Regions from separate parts of the Homo sapiens genome. Here region 1 is linked to region 2. The links come from fine-mapping of genetic effects on gene expression. A gene starts in region 2. The other region holds a variant in brackets. All regions are shown on one strand. Distances are between the middles of the regions.

The links. PIP is the estimated chance that this variant, and not a neighbour inherited with it, causes the effect.
Region 1: its variant is fine-mapped to the expression of ARMH4 in esophagus muscle (GTEx, PIP 0.93).

Annotation. Positions count from the first base shown.
Region 1 is chr14:57,990,867-57,999,958 of GRCh38, forward strand. No RefSeq gene overlaps it. Among named protein-coding and RNA genes, the nearest start is that of SLC35F4, 130 kb to the left of the region's middle. The variant A/G (reference allele first, on the strand shown) is at 4,591.
Region 2 is chr14:58,148,341-58,157,432 of GRCh38, forward strand. It overlaps ARMH4 (armadillo like helical domain containing 4), which reads right to left and starts at 3,873. Exons shown (of 8, transcript NM_001001872.4): 1 at 3,735-3,873. RefSeq lists silencers at 3,408-3,597, 3,698-3,917, 3,811-4,105, 3,998-4,067.

The DNA.
Region 1 (9,092 bases), 160 kb before region 2:
ATCTTTGTTAGTAATGGATGATTTGACATAGTGTAATCCCTTTTATCAGATGTACTGGAATATATTCACAGCCCAAACTTCCTTTTCTTTAAAATAAAAGATAGGCTAAAAATGAGATCCAAGGATCCTTCCAGCTCTAAAATTGCTATATTCTCTGGTTATAGAGTTTCTAACAAGGAAGCATGTGGCCTAAATGTGTCACTTCATTATTAGAAATATCATAGTACTAAATTAAGCTCTGATGTCCCAAAATATCCCTGCACTTTAATACCAGATCACAGTTTCTTCCCTTGCTTTGTACCCTAGCCTAGCCTGTCTTCTTCTCTCTCTCTCTCTGTCTATCTTAGTTTGTATTCTCCCAAAAACAGAACCTGAGACAAAAGCTTAAACACAGTAGTTTGTTTGGAAATGTGATCTCAGGGACCAGGAGTATAGGATGGAGCTGGGAACAGTGAAGGAGGGAAAGGATTAGTGAGGATGCATTATCAAGGTGGCCACTGTTACAAGTGACTGGCTCCAACAGGATTTCTGAGAAACTTGATAAATCGCAACTCAAAACTGTCTGCCTGAAAGAGGAAAAGAGAGCAGTTATTCATCAATCCTCATCCCCCTTGATGGACAAGGGTGGCCTCACAGATATCAACTCCCTCGTACTTCTGAACTGTGCATGCCTTAGTATTGACGTGCTTCCCAAGGCATGGTGTCAGGACAGTCCAGCGTCAGAGAAGTGAGAAAGCCACAGCACAAGGCTAGTCTCTATCAGGCTGCACCCATGCAAAAGCTGATTGACACCTGCACAGACCTGGTAAACACAATAGTGGCATGAGCAAGAGGATCTGGAGTGGTGTACAGGGAGGTACAATCCATTTCTTGTGCTTGTTTTTTGTGCCCTTCTTTAAATTCAGTCTATCAGAGAATCCCTTTCATGGTGGTGGCCAGCCATAGTCTCTGCAAAGACTTAATTCAAGAGGGTTAGTGGAACAAGTTCCAGTTCTACTGTTCCAGCTGATCCCAAGATCATAATATTCTTCATCTCCCTCCTCCACTATCCACTTTAGACTTTTCTCACCCTTGCCTGATGTAGGCTCATTAACATCTTGCCTGATCTAGATTGCTTGCTTGGAGGGTGACCTTGAGTGTGAGAATGACAGCACAATCCACCAATGTGAGTCTCCTGATACACTTCCATACAGATCCTCTGGCTTTCATGACATGCCTTATGTTGCTAATTAACAAACCTGAGCCTGTCATTTTCTTCATTTGCTTTTTTCAAAGCCTCCAAAGCAGTCTAAACACACCAGCCAGCTCAATCCTTGTTATTACCATTGCTCCTGTACTATTTAAGGACCACGGCTATCACACCACCCAATGCTCTGCCTCTGCCTGCACCTCATCCCAATCCACCTCAGTAAGAGTCTTAGTAACTGAGATGGCGCTGGCCAGATACCACCACTCCACCCACCTCCAAAAATGGAGTCCTTATTACCTCTGAACAGTGAGTGATCTCACTCCAAAATCCCAATTATTGTAGCCTGAGTTCCCCTGAAAGCAGGACCTCAGACAAAGTCTTGCATGCAAGTAGCAGTGAAACAAGGAAAGAGAGAAGGCCAATACAAGGATGAATTTTCAAGGTAGCATTGCAATGGACAACCAGTGCTCAATCCTAAGGACTATTCTGAGAAGCCTCATGAAACGTATCTGAGAACCGGCCACATGAGCAACAAATGGTGGGAGGATTTATCCATCAGTTTCCATCCTCATTCGTTAAGGCCCACCAGGTTAGCCCCCCTAACATTTCCAGGTTGTACATGTGTGAGTGACAAGTGAAACCCCACAATAACCCACACCCTGGCAAACTGGTGGAAGCCTGTGCCAAACTAAATGCTACTTAGGTGACTGGAATAAAAGATAGGATTTGAAGTGTCTGTTACACTTCCTCTAAGAGGTGTCTGATACACTCCCTCTAAGATGTCCCTTAGGTTCCTATTTTCCCAGGATCATTCCAGTTTATGCCTGTTATCCCATTGTAATTAACAGTGTCCCCACTTTTTTGTTTTTGAGATAAGGTCTCATTCCATCACCCAGGCTGGAGTGCAGTGGCATGATCATGGCTCACTGCAGCCTTGACCTCCCAGGCTCAAGTGATCATCCCATCTTAACCTCCCAAGTATCTGGGTCCACAGAGGCACATCACCACATCTGGCTAATTTTTAATTTTTGGTAGACACAGGGTCTCCCTACATTGCCCAGGCTGGACTCAAACTCCTGGACTCAAGTGATCCATGTGAGCCAGCGCACCCAGCTGTGCCCCTTTCACTCTCAATTGTATCCCAGTTTAGACCATAAGGATATATTCACTTAGTGCACTCGCTCTCTCTCTTTCTCTCTCTCTCATACACAGACACCCATCCCCCCCACCTTCTACCCACCTTCCAACACACACACACACACACACACACACACACACACTTTGAGAAGCACAAAAACAATCCCCCATAGAATTGGTTTATTCATAGTTGTTTTCTTCTTCATGGTTGTTTTTCTTATTTTTTACTGCCCTTTGCAGAAACGTCTCTTGATACAATGCATTTTGCGTTCATTGAAATAAATGAAGAGTGCATCCAAAGAAACCACCTTCTACTAAATCTTTAAACAAGGAACAGGTCTTGTGCCACACATTGCATTTTAATAAACTTAATTTAATGAAGCGCTGCATTCCACAAGTACAGTCAGTACAGTAGCTCTCCTTTGGGATGGAAAAATTACAAGAAGCAATGCCGAGGACCGTGAACTGTATACAGAAGCCTTGTGGATCTAGAAACCAACAGTGTGTGAACTTAGGACATTCTCAAGTTTTAAAACGTGGCCATTATAATATCATCACATTACATAAATATCACATCACCAATATTCGTTTTGTTTTTTTCTTTTAGAACCAAAAAAAAATGCTTGTAAACTGCAAAATTACTTTAGATCACTGCGATAAATCTGAATTAACTACTAGGTACCGTCAGCCCTTCATATTTGTGAGTTACACATCTGTGGATTCAACCAACCCTGGATGGAAAATACTCAGAAAAAAAAATCAGTACAGAGTAGTGTCTGTACTAAACAGGTACACACTTTTTTTTCTTGTCATTATTCACTAAATACAGTAATAACAACTAATTACATAGCATTTACATATTAAGTATTATATGTTTAGAGATGATATAAAGTATACTTGAGGATGTGCATAGGTTATTCGCAAATACTACACCAAGTTATGTAAGGCGCTTGAGCATCCATGAATTTTGTTATCAGCAGGGAGTTCTGGAACCAATCCCCCATGGATACCTAGAGACAACTGTAATTGCAAACTACTTCAGTGAATAACAGAAGCTAACTAAAAACTTAGTTCTGAATGATTGGATTGTCTGTTGCACTCTACCTACTGAAGCAGAGTGTTTACATGGCCACAGGTAATTCATTCAGTAATTTCAGGGTATGACTCAAGATGCAGTATTCTTCTCTGCGGCTCTTCGCCTTGGAGCACTTGGAAGATGCATTATCTGCTGAAAAACCAATGTTCAGTGTGGGCTGATATAATAAAAATTAAATACTTTAAAAACTGAATCAAAATCATAGCTAAAAATCAATGCTATATAGTTTCTATGACATGAAAAATCTGTGAACAAATCATTTATTACAGGTCTTGTTTTATGTTTCTCTTGTCAAAGATAATTATTTATTACAAGTGAGGTTTCTGCCATCAGCAGAGTCAAGGGTAACCTGGAGTGCCTACCTCTTTGAATTGTGATACTCAATCGAGTTTATCCATGTTAAGTACTGAGCACAGCACTTGGCCTACAGCAAGAGCTCAAGAAGTATTTGTGATTTTATTATCGCTAAGTAAAAATAAATTTGAGTTTCACTAAGATTTTTGAAATTCACATTTTATTTGCATGGCATAAAACTAGCCTATTCAACAACTCCCCATAATTAAACTTGAAAAGATCCTGATTATTTATAACAGAAAATAATTATGTCCCTAATTCATTTATTTGCCTTTTTTTTTTCTGGTTGCCTTTGATTGACTTCTGACCTTAAGCATGAACAGAAATGTGTGCTAAAAAGCCTGGTCTTTCCAGTGAAGAGTCAATCAGTTTGCCAAATGCTTACTCCATAATTTTAATCTAATAACATTTTACTAATAACATTTTATGAACAAGAACTTACTTTCACATCCAGACAATATTTTTAGAATAAAGCTCATTGCACCTTATAATGTGCTTTATTTAATGTCATCTTCTACCATGTGCAAGAAGTTTGGGGGAGTATGGGCTAGTAGAGATGTTTACAAAGGTCTTGATTGAAAGACCCACAGGGCTTTGTTAATTGGTTTTAAAGATACTTACAATTTCTCTGCAAATACATAGAACAAAGACAATAAAACGTTATTTAGTAAGATATAAGTCCTATTGAATCAGTTGGTACCCACTTTCATTTATAGACCCTTCAGAGCTGAAAGGGATGGGGAAGAGGGTGGATGAAGAAGGTCTAATGGAGAATACACAGAAGAAGCAGAAGCCATGGCTCCTCTTTTTAACA[A/G]TGACAGAGAAAGGAAAACAATGGACATAGCAATAAACATTTGCTCATTTAATTTTAGTCAAGTTAAATCAAATGTAAAAAATGTGTGCCCTATAATAATAAATGACACAAAAATACTAATTAGATTCAAGAGAGTTGAACTGAATAACCCTTTAATCAATTTAAGTCACACAGTAAGTGTCCTTTTCCCCAGTATTTCTCATAATACTACATATTAATTGCGCTTATGGTTATTCAGTCTTATTATTTAATTATAAAAGCTTATAGCTTTTACTTTGGGGGCAAAGACAAAGAGAAGAAAGTGTTCTCTAATCCCTTAAGGAACAAGAATATGACATTTGCCAATGTGCGTTGTGTTTATGGAGACTTCTTTCAACTCTGTTCTTATTTTCATCCTATGGAGGCATCCTGAGGTAAATGGGCAGTTATGGACCATCAAATGCGAAATAAATGTTTTAATGAGGAAACACAGCTTGCTCGTTCAAATACAACTTAGGATTTTCACAAGCTGTTTTCCTTTCTTCTATTCCTCTTAAAACAACCATGGGAAAACATAGCTACAGAGAGGTAACAAAATACTATGTAAATTATAATCCTGATTTTGTATAAAAATAAAAGTATTTATTGCATATCATAAATGCATAGGAAAAAAAAGATTAGAAAAGTACAGACCAAAATGTTACCAATGTTTATTATTGTTAACATTTCGGGTGGGACTGGAATGATAATTATTCTTAAGTTTTTCTGAATTTTCTCAATTCTGCATATCATTGTCCCTGAGGCCCTCCAGAATCTGGCCTTGTGCTGATATGGCAACTATGGGAAACTTGCTTTATTTTTTATATGCTAAGGAAGGTAAGTGGCTTGACGATTGCCCGTAAGAACTGTCAAAAGGCCACAGAAACTGCTCAGCACCAGGACACAGAGCTGCATTGCTTGATTCTGCAGGCTGCACATCTAAGACCAGATGTTGTCCTCATACATACCAGCCCTGAGAAAAAAGTTTCTTGGATTTGTTTTCAAGAAAAACAAGATATTGAGCTTTGTTCCCTTGTCAAAGAATAAGAAACTCTCCTATTAGCCTTTACAAATCAAGACAGTCAAACAGATCTGAGATAGTAACTCATATCTAGGGATCAACCAAAGTAATCCCCTAAAGGTATTAGGAGAATTTTCCCAGATATTTAAGTTTCATTAAATGCAAAGTTAGTTCACTGGTACCTACTATTAAAAGTAACAGAAAATGGCGAGGTGCAGTGGCTCATGCCTGTAATTCCAACAGCTCAGGAGGCTGAGGCAGCATAGCTTGAGCCCAGGCGTTCGAGACCAGCCTGGGCAACATAGTGAGACCCTGTCTCTACAAAAAATAAAAAAAAAAAAAATAGCTGAGAGTGCTGACACACATCTGTAGTCCTAGCTACTCAGGAAGTTAAGGGGGAAGGATCACTTAAGCCCAAGAGTTTGAGGCTGCAGTAAGCCATGATTGCACCATTGCACTATAGCCTGAGTGACAGAGTAAGACCCTGTCTCAAAAAAAGTAAACAAAAGAAGTCACAGAAAATGACCACACATTTACACTTTGTAAAAATTAATGCTGCCTATACATTTCTGGCAGGCTTGTAGGTTATTTTTCTCAGGCCTAGATATGCTGGGATAATACAGGGTCAGCCCCTCCAGAAGGCAGAACACTAGACCATCGTATCTAGAAGCCTCAAAAGTCCCATGACCCTAGTCAGCTTTAAATGTTGTCTTTTCCCTCATCTCTCCATCTAAACAATCTGCAAGTCCCACTGTCTACCCCTGCTGAACACCGCCAGAACCCATTCTCCCCTTCCATGTTCATTTCTGCAACCTTGGTCCAGGCCATGATTATCTCTCACTTACATTGCTGCATCAACCTTGACCTTCACTGGTGTCTCTGACTCCAGACTTTAACCTTCCCAAACCAGTCTTCCTATTAACTCAGGCCTGATCATAACACTTCACAGCATAATATTTTTGCATGACTTCTAATTGCCCTCAAATAAAGTCCTCATTCCTTGACAGGACCTAGAGGATCCTTCCCATTCAGCCCCGTATTTCACATAGCATACTACCCTCAACCCCAACTCTCACTCCCCTAGAATACCTAGCACCCCAGCCAGGCTAACTACTTGATCTCTCACCCCTGGCCTTTGCACATGGGGTTTCTCTGGCTAGATCACATATCCCCTTCTCCCCTTTATCTGAATAACCCCACTCATCCTCCTGGCCTTAGGTTTGATGTTACCTGCTCTGGAGAAGCATCCCTGATCTTCTTGACCCAGTTAGATATTCCTTTTCTGGATCCCAGTGTCTCTGATATGAAATTGCCCATTTTCTGTCTTCCCTACTAATCCATAAGCCCTTTCCAGTCATGGACTGTGTCTTGGCTCCCCCAACACTTAACATATTACCTGACACATAAAAGGCATTCAATAAATACTGATTCAGTCAGAAGCAATATCAAGTGTTCTTGGTTTGCTGAAGATAGAGTCTCTAGCCATCCTCACCCTCCTCGGCAAAGAACCAATCAAATCTTTGGGATTCGATTGGTTCAACCACAAAACCATTTCCTATTCCTCCTCCTTTACCTCTTACATAAAGAGGGAAATAAAGGAAAATGACCATTGAAGGTTTTGTATCAAAATTCCTTTTTGGAAGACTACTTATAATTTCCTACTTTAGTCTGTCTGGTCATGAAGAAGTCTGAACTACACAAATGCTGTGGCCATGTCATGAGACATAAAATTAGAGAAATGATTCAAATGCTTTTGGTCCCTTCCTTTATTTGACTGCTAATTAGGAAGAGAATATTGAGATGGACATGACACTGGTTAATAAAAACCTCAGTTTCCTGAACTGATGCCAGGTTTATTCTTTTGAGACTAGAGCAGATGATCTACCCACCTTAAAGGTAATAAAATAATCCAAGTGGATGCCCACTTTGCCTGCAACTTTGCTTGCACTCCATTCCTATACCTATACACTTTGAGAAAAAAGATAACAGGATTTTCCCCCCACAGATAATTCTTCTGTTTCTACTCCTCAGTTCCTCCATCCTTAACCCACAAAAGGTTACACCTCTCAGCAACATCCATCTGAAGAATTTATACTCTATATTACAAATTGTTGATGGTTATCACTTACATAAGTGATCTTTTCCTGCTGCTTCTTGAAAAGAGAAAGTAGGATATTTGCTTTACTAGGTGGAATATGTAAGTTTTTTTACATCAATTTTTTTGTGCTTTTACACAAACTAGAACATGGGAGCAAATGACTTGTTTCTTTGTGCTTTTGCTGCTACTTACTGAGGGAATTCCTTAATTACTTCCTTCCTTCCTTCCTTCCTTCCTTCCTTCTCTTTATCCTATATGCACATGGTAGAAATTTGGGTTAATTAAAAGGGAGTTAGATATACCTATTACCCCAAATAGGACACTCCCAGTGCATTTGTATTACAGCGGCTTGCAAAATAAATGCTGGGGTTTTTTTCTGCATGCAGAAATTAAGCAACAGGATTATGTTTCCAGCTATGTTAACTGCCAGTCTATAATTATCAGGGCAACATCTCTCCACAGCTCATCTTCAGCTTATCAGTCTAGGAGTGCTAAATGTGCACATGTGGGACTTTTACTAAGTCAGTACCATTATTTTGCTTTCAAATTATTTCCTATTCCTAGAAGTTTATATTCAGTCATTTGAAGACTGTGCAATTAAAGAAGATATCTAACTGAGCTTAAGCTCATTTAAAGTAACCAAGCACCTTTTACCTCCTCATCCATCTTGGACTTCAGTTCCCCACCCCCAGCTATGTTCATTCTAACTACTATGAGATAATATTATTTGATGGAGAAGGTGGAGGCAAAATGGATTTGTGTAGCTTTATGGTCCCTTCTCCTGTTAATGATCTTCCTCATTTGTATTCTTCTCCTTGCTTTTCTCTATATTTTTTCAAGCATTGGTCCATTCAGAACTTTGGCATCCTCCAGCACTTTCTAATGTTTTGTGCCATTTTTATATTTGCCTTGCATTATGATTTTCCTCCATCTTCTTCTACCATATTTCTTTGCTTGAAACCACACCTTCACATACCATAAAGGGAAGAGATTTTTTTTCAGTTGTGTTCCTGCCTCTTCAAATTCCTCTGTGGTCATAAAAAAGCCTGTCTTGCCAAAATGTCACGTAGCTATAACCTTGCGCCAAATAGTACATCTTGTTTCCAAAAGCTGTTTTTTTGGCAGCTGGTAGGAACATGGATTATTCATATCTGCAGAAATCACAATCCCTGTGGAGGATTTGATTCTTCTCCCCCAGGTTGTGGCTGTGATTGGAAATAAGGTGTTTCATTTGGACTTCTACAGGAAGAAGACACCTGGAGGCAGACACAGAAGGAAGAGCGAGGTATTCAGTATGCTCCATGCACTCTATGTAATTTTCGGATACCTATATAAAATGTTTTGGCTTTTAACGCTTAGCATTTG
Region 2 (9,092 bases):
AGCTCTCAGGCTCCCAAGTTTTGAGAATGACACTGTACGACCCATGGTTCCCTACCCAGGTATCCAAACCCTGGCCTCCCAGGTCACATCCCATTCTGGCCCATTCTTTCCCCACCCTTCTCCTAGCTCCTGTAGCATGAATTGTCATTTAAGTCTCAGCACCTCAAATGAGATTATGTTCTTTGCATACAAACACTAGTCTTTACCATTCCTTTGTTTGCCACATAATTAGTAATAAGGGTAGGCACAAAGAGGAGAGATTCCATAAATATTTGTTGGCATGATGTGAATATAAATAACCATTTAAGAATATGAAAAAGAACGTTTCAAGTCCTTATTTTGTACTGTAAGATTTTTTTAATGACATTTCATGGTCTAACCATGTCTACTTGTATGTTTTATTCAATACCTAGCCAATTTTGGCTACTTATTTAACTGTCACTCTAACAATAACAATAACTTATGTGTTCTCATTTCTGCTATATTTTAAGGTTTCAGAGTTTATTACACACACACACACACACACACACACACACACACGCAACAGACCAACAGTTACAGGTAACAAGTCTCACAGCGTCAAGTCAACATGCTTGCCAAATACCATCTCACCTTTTGAAATACAATTAGTGATTCTCTGATGAGGGGGATAGTGTCTTAATAATCTTTGTGTCTTAATAATCTTTCCATTTTGTGTCTTAACAATCTTTCCACTTTGTCCTTTTCATGACCATTCCTCAATGATTAATTTATCATTGTCTTACTTTTTCTTTTTTTAAATCCTTAAGGCTGTTACTGCCAACACTATTTTATTGCCAATACTATTGTATTTACTTAAAGCTGAGCTTATAAAGACTCTCACTCTATTAACCCAGCTGTGGCAAATGGCATTAAGGTACCACGTTTCTGATTCACTGTGCTACTGACAATCATCACTGGTCTGTTATATTGGCTTTAGGATCTAGGCTGCAGCTATACTTCACCATAAATTAAATAGCTGAATGACAAACAATCCTTTCAGCAGCATGTTCCATCACAATGGAAGGAGGGAGAAGGAGTAAGTAACCACAAAGAAAAGCATGGTCCCCCAGGAGGAAAGCAGCCCCAGAGCTGGCAGGGAAGAGGGTAAGTAGGCTGGGGTCAAAATAGCTAAATTACTGGAAACTAAATACCAGTAAAAAGTACTTTACCATCCCTGAAGACCACACCTAAGTTCTACATACTGAGCCCAGGAGCTTCAGTCTCTACAAATTAGTGATGTAGACAAATGAAGATATCCGTGCTTATCACCCCTAGCATATCATCTCATCCCTGGTAAAAGGAGATGGACTTGAAGATTTAAAAACAGGCTTCTTCGAGTTCCAGTTCTACCTTAGGCAAATCACTGAAACTCAAGTTTTCTTGTTGCAAAGTAGAAATAATAATGCTGGTTATATTTTTTCAAAGGGTGGAGAACACACACAAAAGTGATAATAGACATAAAAGCAGTTTGAAACAAAAGTAAATTATCATGCAATAGAAGACATACTAGCATGCTACTGACATGCATTCCTGTCAAATACAGAAATGTGAGCAATTTGGAGCATCTGTAACATCAGCCACAAATGGAGTAGCATTTTTTTCCCCAAGGTACTTTCATGGAGCTTCTCCTTTCAGCTTTATCATGTAGACAATGTGACCTGAGAGGGTTCTGCTGTCTGCAGAATCCTATCCTGATGAATCTTGATCAACAAACTCTTCTCCATCCATCAGACAGTTTATTTCAGTGACCCAATTGGACATATCATTTCTGGTTTTTGTGGTACACAAATGTAGCCATTTGCTTGGCTAGATCTCTAAGTAGCTGACATTTAAAGGGAAGCTGAAACTAGCTTCAGATACTTCTCTTATAATCACCAAGTAAACACAATATGGAAAAATAAGATTGACCTCACATCTTGCTTAGGGAATGAGTTTTCATTTTACAAAAATTAAAAGCAGTTTCCCTCTGCATAGACAGCTTCCCTATGTGAGAAGTTTTTTAAGTTCAATTAACAAAAATACAATTCCATACACCACTTTTCAGACAAACATCTACAGAATAAAGGGCAAAGGACACCTTTAGGTGGGGAGTGGACATTTTCCACAGCAGATAAACCCGTTTTCCTCATTTTGATTCTACACTTATATTTAGCATCGAACCATTTCCGTAATACCAAATTATAATATTGTAAAGGTCTGGCAGGAAACTCCGGAATATGTAGTAAGAAGCCTCCCATGAAAACAAAGACAAATTCACATCTCTCTAATTGGCTCCGTTGCTGTAGCTACCTTAGACTTGGTGAGCCTTGGGAGTTTCTATGAATAAACTCAACTAATATCAAATCTGTCTGCTGCACAAGTGCTCGGTTCATTATTGTGACAAATACAAAAAAAAAACCACTTTATTCATAAGAGCAAGTCAGAGTACCTTTAAACCTCTGTGTGTAAAAGAAGCAATGTTCTGATACTGTGAAACCTTAGCCGGTTGTGTGTTTCAATAGATGCTACTGTGGGGTTCTACTGGCATACGTGCCGAAGTCAGTCAATGACTGTAGATGCTTGGCTAAAAGGAGACTCCCTGGAGCCCAACAGCATCACTTGTGATCAAGGAAATACACCAAAATAAAGAGAAGGCATGTGAATTCTGACCACTCAAGAATTTTTGCCCTTTGGAGAAGAGATCCTTCAGAACCCTAGGGATGGTTTTGTGAACCACTCCCCACTCCCCCTCAAGTTTCAAACTAAAACTTCCAAAGAAAGAAGGCAGACACTTTAAAGCAGCCATCTCTCCTCTCTTCCACATCAGTTCTGCACTGAAATTGGATGCCAAGTGCTAGGCGGATCCTCGGGATCATCTCATCTTTGAGAACCCAAACTCTTAAGGGTCCTGTTTTGTTCACTCCTGCTTGCCTCCTCGCCAGCCAAGGTTCTACATGTTTGGAATCTACACAAGTCAGATTCTGTCAGTGACCACGAGGCACATGAGACATTTGGGCACCTCCGGCAGCACCTCCCAACTATTCCGGAGTCTCAAGCAGAGCCTCGCCTCCCCCAGGTCTAACCCGCAGGCCCTCTTTCTAATTAAGTGACCTTTCCAAGGAGCGTCCTCCAGCCGCGTCCTGGGGGACGAGTCAGGGGCTGAGCAAGGAGGCTCGACATCTCTGCGCTAAACACTCAACTGTTTGTTTTCTGCAAAGTGGCAGGACATATTTCGGTGGTGACCGCAGCAACGATTCGCTCCTCGATTGTTAGGCTCTGAGTGGCATTGGGGACACTGCGATCGACGGTTTGAAAGGAGTAAACCGTTGTTTTCGGGAACTTCTCTCTCACTGCTGTGGGATTGCGAGCGGAGGGAGAAAGAGAAAGAAAAGCCCACACAAAAGCAGCCAGCCCTGCAAGCTCCGCCAGCACAAAGGCCGGCTCGCTGGTGCGGAGCTGGGAGGCTGGGCTGGAGCTAGGAGTGCGGTGAGTCCTCCGAGGCCTGCGCGCCGCGCCCAGCGCGCCCAGAGCTGCCCCCGCGCACCCCACACCTGGGCACCGCGCTCCGGAGGAGGATCGGGGCGCACGCCTGGCGCACCCAGGGCTGCAACGCTCCCGGGACTGTTACGCTCGCGGAGCGACCCCACGCCACTGAGGCTCCGGTTCCGTCCCTGCCCCGGCGCCACGTCTGCAGCCGCGGCCGCCCAAGTGGCCGGAGCCGGGCCCGTCCTCACCTGTGCGCCTTCAGCTGAGCAGCGCGCGGAGGACAGAGGCAGCGGCGGCGCGGGCGCTCGGCATCCCAGCGGCGGGCCCTGCGGCGGCGGCGGCGGTAGCGGCGGCGACTCCCTCCGCTGTCTGGGACGCTAGGGGGAGGGCGCTTCGCTTTGTTGCTTATTCATAAGGCCGCGGCTACGGCCGGGGATTGGGCGGTGAGTAGGTGTGCCCGCCCTGGCTCTGCTGGCACTGACAGCCGACGCCGTCGCCCACGCCCCCCTGCGCCCACTTCCCCGCCTCCGCTCTCCCGCGGGGGCGGCTTCTGCTGGAGTCCCGGCACCTGGGACCCCTCGGAGATCCCGTGCTCCGCTTCCCCTCTTTAAGCGGGAGCTTCTGCGGCAGCTCGCCTCCCTATCTACGCGGAAGAGACCAGGGCACCGTTTACACGAGAAAAACCTCAATTTTGCTGTCTTTGGTTCAGGCAAGGAGCGCAAATCTGAGACTGCAGTGTTCCTTGTGGAAACTATGGACGGCTTGGCGGTGCCCTTAAGTAGGACCCTTAAAGTAACTCTACACAGAATGTCCCTTCTCAGTCCGTCGGAGAAGTTGCAAACTAGTGCTAGTCACAAGTAAGGTTTATTGAGCCCTTACTCCTGCCAGGCACAAGAGTAGATGCTTTGCCCATTACTTTACCTGCTTAATCTGCACGATAGAAGGGTAGATATTGTAGTTCTCATTTACCAGGGTAGGAGGTTAAGGCTAAGGGCTGTGTAACTTCTCCAAGGTCATCCGGCTCGCGTGGCCACCGGGAATTTGTGTCCTCCATTCTTGAGCCTCTCAAGGACTGTTTTCTTTTTCTGTTACTTCTAATGGTGTGGAAAGAGGTGTCGGAATCTAAAGGCCCGTTTTGGAACAACCTCCACAACGCAGCATTTTACATTTGCAGAGCACTCTTCACATTTGTCCCTTATTGTGCTTATTAGCTCCCTTCTTCATAATACCTTAGTCCCCTTTTGTAGTTAATTATAAACACCTTGAAGTCAGAGCAAAAGCTGGCTCACCTTTGACCCCCACACCTAACACAATGCACAGGTATGTACTGGTTTCTGTTTGTTTGTTTGTTTGTTTTTGAGACAGGATCTCACTCTTTCCCCCAGGCTGGAGTGCAGTGGCGCCATCATGGCTCACTGCAGCCTCGACCTCCTCCTGGGACCTCAAGCCATCACCCACCTCAGCCTCCTAAGTAGCTGGGACCACAGGCATGCGGCACCACGACTGGCTAATTTTTTATTATTATTATTATTATTATTATTATTATTATTATTATTATTATTGGTAAAGATGGGGTCTTCCTATCTTGCCCTGGCTAGTTTCAAACTCCTGGACTCAAGCGATCCTCCTGCCTCGGTCTACCGAAGTGTTTGAATTATAGACATGTGCCACGGTGCCCAGCAGGTATGCACTGTTACCCATTCCCCCTCCCTTTAGAAATTATTATCTATGTATAATCATGCATTGATTAATTAGGGGAATACATTCTAAGAAATGTATCCTTAGGCAATTTTGTTGTTATGCGAGCATAATAGTATACTTACACAAACCTAGATGGCATAGCCTACTACGTACCAAGGCTATATGGTATAGCCTATTGCTCCTAGGCTACAAGCCTGTACAGCATGTTACTGTACTCAGTACTGTAGGCAATTGTAACACAATGGTATTTCTATATCTAAACATTGAAACAATACAGTAAAAATACAGTATAAAAGATAAAAAATGGTGCATCTGTATAGAGCACTTACCATAAATGGAGCTTATAGGACTGGAAGTTGCTCTGGGTGAGTCAACGAATGATGAGTGAGAATATGAAGACCTAGGACATAACTGTACACTACTGTAATGTACGTAACCTTACACTACTGACATAACTGTATACTATTGTACATAACTACACTACTGTAGTTATGTAGGCTATAACTGTATGCTACACTACTACTGTAGTGTAAACAATGTACACTTAGGCTGTACTGTAGACATAAACATTTTTTCTTCAATAATAAATTAACCATAGCTTACCTGAATTTTTTACTTTATAAATTTTTTTTAACTTTTGACTCTTTTTTTCTTTGAGACAGGGTCTCACTCTGTCACCCAGGCTGGAGTCCAGTGGTACAATCACAGTTCACTGCAGCCTGGACCTCCTAACCTCAAGCAATCCTCCTGCCTCAGCCTCCCCAGTAGTTGGGACTACGGGCACATGCCACCACGGCTGGGTAACTTTTGACTCTTTTGTAATAACACAGCTTAAAACACAAACATATTGTACAGCTGTTCAAAAATATTTCATTTCTTTATTTCCTTATTCTATAAGCCTTTTTCTATTTAAAAAACAAAATTTTAAAAGGCCAGGTGGGTCATGTCTGTAATATCAGCACTTTGGTAGGCTGAGGCGGGTGGATCACCTGAGGTCAGGAGTTCGAGACCAACCTGGCCAACATTGCAAAACCCTGTCTCTACTAAAAATACAAAAATTAGCCAGACATGGTGGTGCGTGCCTGTAATCCCAGCTATTAGGGGGGCTGAGGCAGCAGGATCGCTTGAACCTGGGAGGCGGAGGTTGCAGTGAGCCAAGATCGTACCACTGCACTCCAGCCTGGGCAACAGAGCAAGACTCTGTCTCAAAAAAAAATTAAACTTTTTGGTTAAAAAACAAAACAGAAACACACACATTAGCCTGGGCCCATAAAGAGTCAGGATCATTATCACCATCTTTCACCTCCACATCTTGTCCTGCTTCAGGGGCTATAACACACATAGAACAGTCATCTCCTGTGATAACAAGGCCTTCTTCTGCAATACCTCCTGAAGGACCTGCCTGATGCTGTTTTACAGTTAACATTTTTATATACAAGTAGAAGTAGTATAATCTAATGATAAAAAGTACAGTACAGTAAACACATAAGCCAGAGTAGCATAGACATTTATTATTATCAAGTATTTACTGTACATTATTGTATGTGCTGTAATTTTATATGACCGGCAGTATGGTAGGTTTGTTTACACCAGCATCACCACACAAAGGAGAGTAATGCATTATGTTGCATCGTGCTAGGATATTCCGATGGCTACCATGTCACTAAGTGATAGAAACTTTTCAGCTTCATCATGATCTTATGGGACCATCATTTTATACGCAGTTTGTGGTTGACTGAAACATTATTATGGGTACATAAGGTACTTCCAGAATGTGATTGGATTGAATTGAATCTATGAAGTTTGTTTGTTTGTTTTTAGACAGGGTCATGCTCTGTCACTCAAGCTGGAATTCAGTGGCCCAATCACTGCTCATTGCAGCCTCGACCTCCCCAGGCTCAAGCAATCCTCCCACCTCAGCCTCCTGAGTAGCTGGGAGCACAGGCGTATACCACCACACCAAGCTTTTTTTTTTTTTTAATTTTTTGTAGAGACGAGGTTTTGCCATGTTGTCCAGGCTGGTATTGAACTCCTGCACTCAAGTTATCTGCCTGCCTTGACCTCCCAAAATGCTGGGATCATAGGTGTCAGCAACCACACCTGGCCTGAGATCTGCTTTTTGTATGTATTCAGTGCAATACATTGCACTGTGGCCAGGTCTTCTACCTGGATTCAGTACCCACCAGGTGGATGAGCCACACCCAGCCTGACCACGTTGTATTTCAGCATTTTATTTTTAAGTCAGTTGTTTGAAACTCAGACCACATCTTCTTGTAAAAACAATGTTATATAGTATGGCGGGGCTACTAGCTAGCCCACAATATTAAGTCTACTCAACCCAAATACAGGTAAATAATAGTACTAAAAAAAAACTAACCTGAATTCTGGGTGTTCTAACCAGATGGCCAGGCAGAAGAGAGACAGCAAGAGGAAGGAATTCCAGTTCTCCTCACATTTACACACAAATCTGAGACATTCAAAGTTTCTTCTTTTTTTTTTTTTTTTTTTTTGAGACAGAGTCTTGCTGTGTCGCCCAGGCTGGAGTGCAGTGGCGCAATCTCAGCTCGCTGCAAGCTCCGCCTCCCGAGTTCACGCCATTCTCCTGCCTCAGCCTCCCAAGTAGCTGGGACCACAGGCGCCTGCCACCTACTCCTGGCTAATTTTTTGTATTTTTAGTAGAGACGGGGTTTCACCGTGTTAGCCAGGATGGTCTCGATCTCCTGACCTCGTGATCCACCCACCTCGGCCTCCCAAAGTGCTGGGATTACAGGCGTGAGCCATCGCGCCCGGCCAAGACATTCAAAGTTTCTTTGACATCTTCCTGCCTCCTTTTCAGTATCCCTTTCTAACATCCTACTCTTCTTAGAGACTCAGTAGCCACATGATAATCTAAGTTCCAAGTACAGAATTCTAGTTCCAGACCTGAGTTAGACTCAAAATTTTCCATTCTTCAAAATTACCCTTCTCTCATAGCAAAATTCCTGTCTCCCATTTCCTCAATATAAATTATTTCAGATGTGCAGTAAAAGTAAAGTGATCTTATTGGAACTCATTTATACTAGTCCTGTATCCTTCCAAAAATGGTTTGTACTGCTTTCAACAACTCTGGTTTATACAATTTATCTCAACATCTGCTGTTGATACATGGCAGTGGTCATAAGATTTACTCTTCTCTTCCCTCAACACACACACACACAAATTGTGGGTTAAGGAAAGTTGTACTGTGCAAGCCAAATAAGTAAATCCACATACAATGAATGTTATTAACCTTTTACAGGTAAAGCAAGAAACTATGGGGCGGTGGCGGGGGGCGGGTGTGAGGGGGAGGTTTAGAGCTTGGGAATAATAAAAACTCCAATCAGGCCAGGTGCGGTGGCTCACACCTGTAATCTCAGAACTTTGGAAGGCTGAGGTGGGCAGATCACCTGAGGTTGGGAGTTCGAGACCAGCCTGATCAACATGGAGAAACCCTGTCTCTACTAAAAATACAAAATTAGCCGGGTATGGTGGCACATGCCTGTAATCCCAGCTACTCGGGAGGCTGAAGCAGGAGAATCACTTGAACCTGGGAGGCAGAGTTCACGGTGAGCTGAGATTGCGCCATTGCACTCCAGCCTGGGCCAAGAGCGAAACTCCATCTCAAAAAAAAAAAACAAAAACAAAAACAAAAAAACCTCCAATCAAGGTAATAAGCAAGGAAACTTAGGAAGGCAGTTTTAAGGTTGCCAGATTTAGCAAATAAAAATAGATGATTCCCAGTTAAATTTGAATTTCAGATAAACCACAAACAATTTTTAGCAAAAGTGTGTCCCAAATATTAAAAGAATGGGACAGACAGTACTGAAACATTATTTGTGATTTATCTGAAATTCCAGTTTAACTGGGCATCCTGCATTTCATCTAGT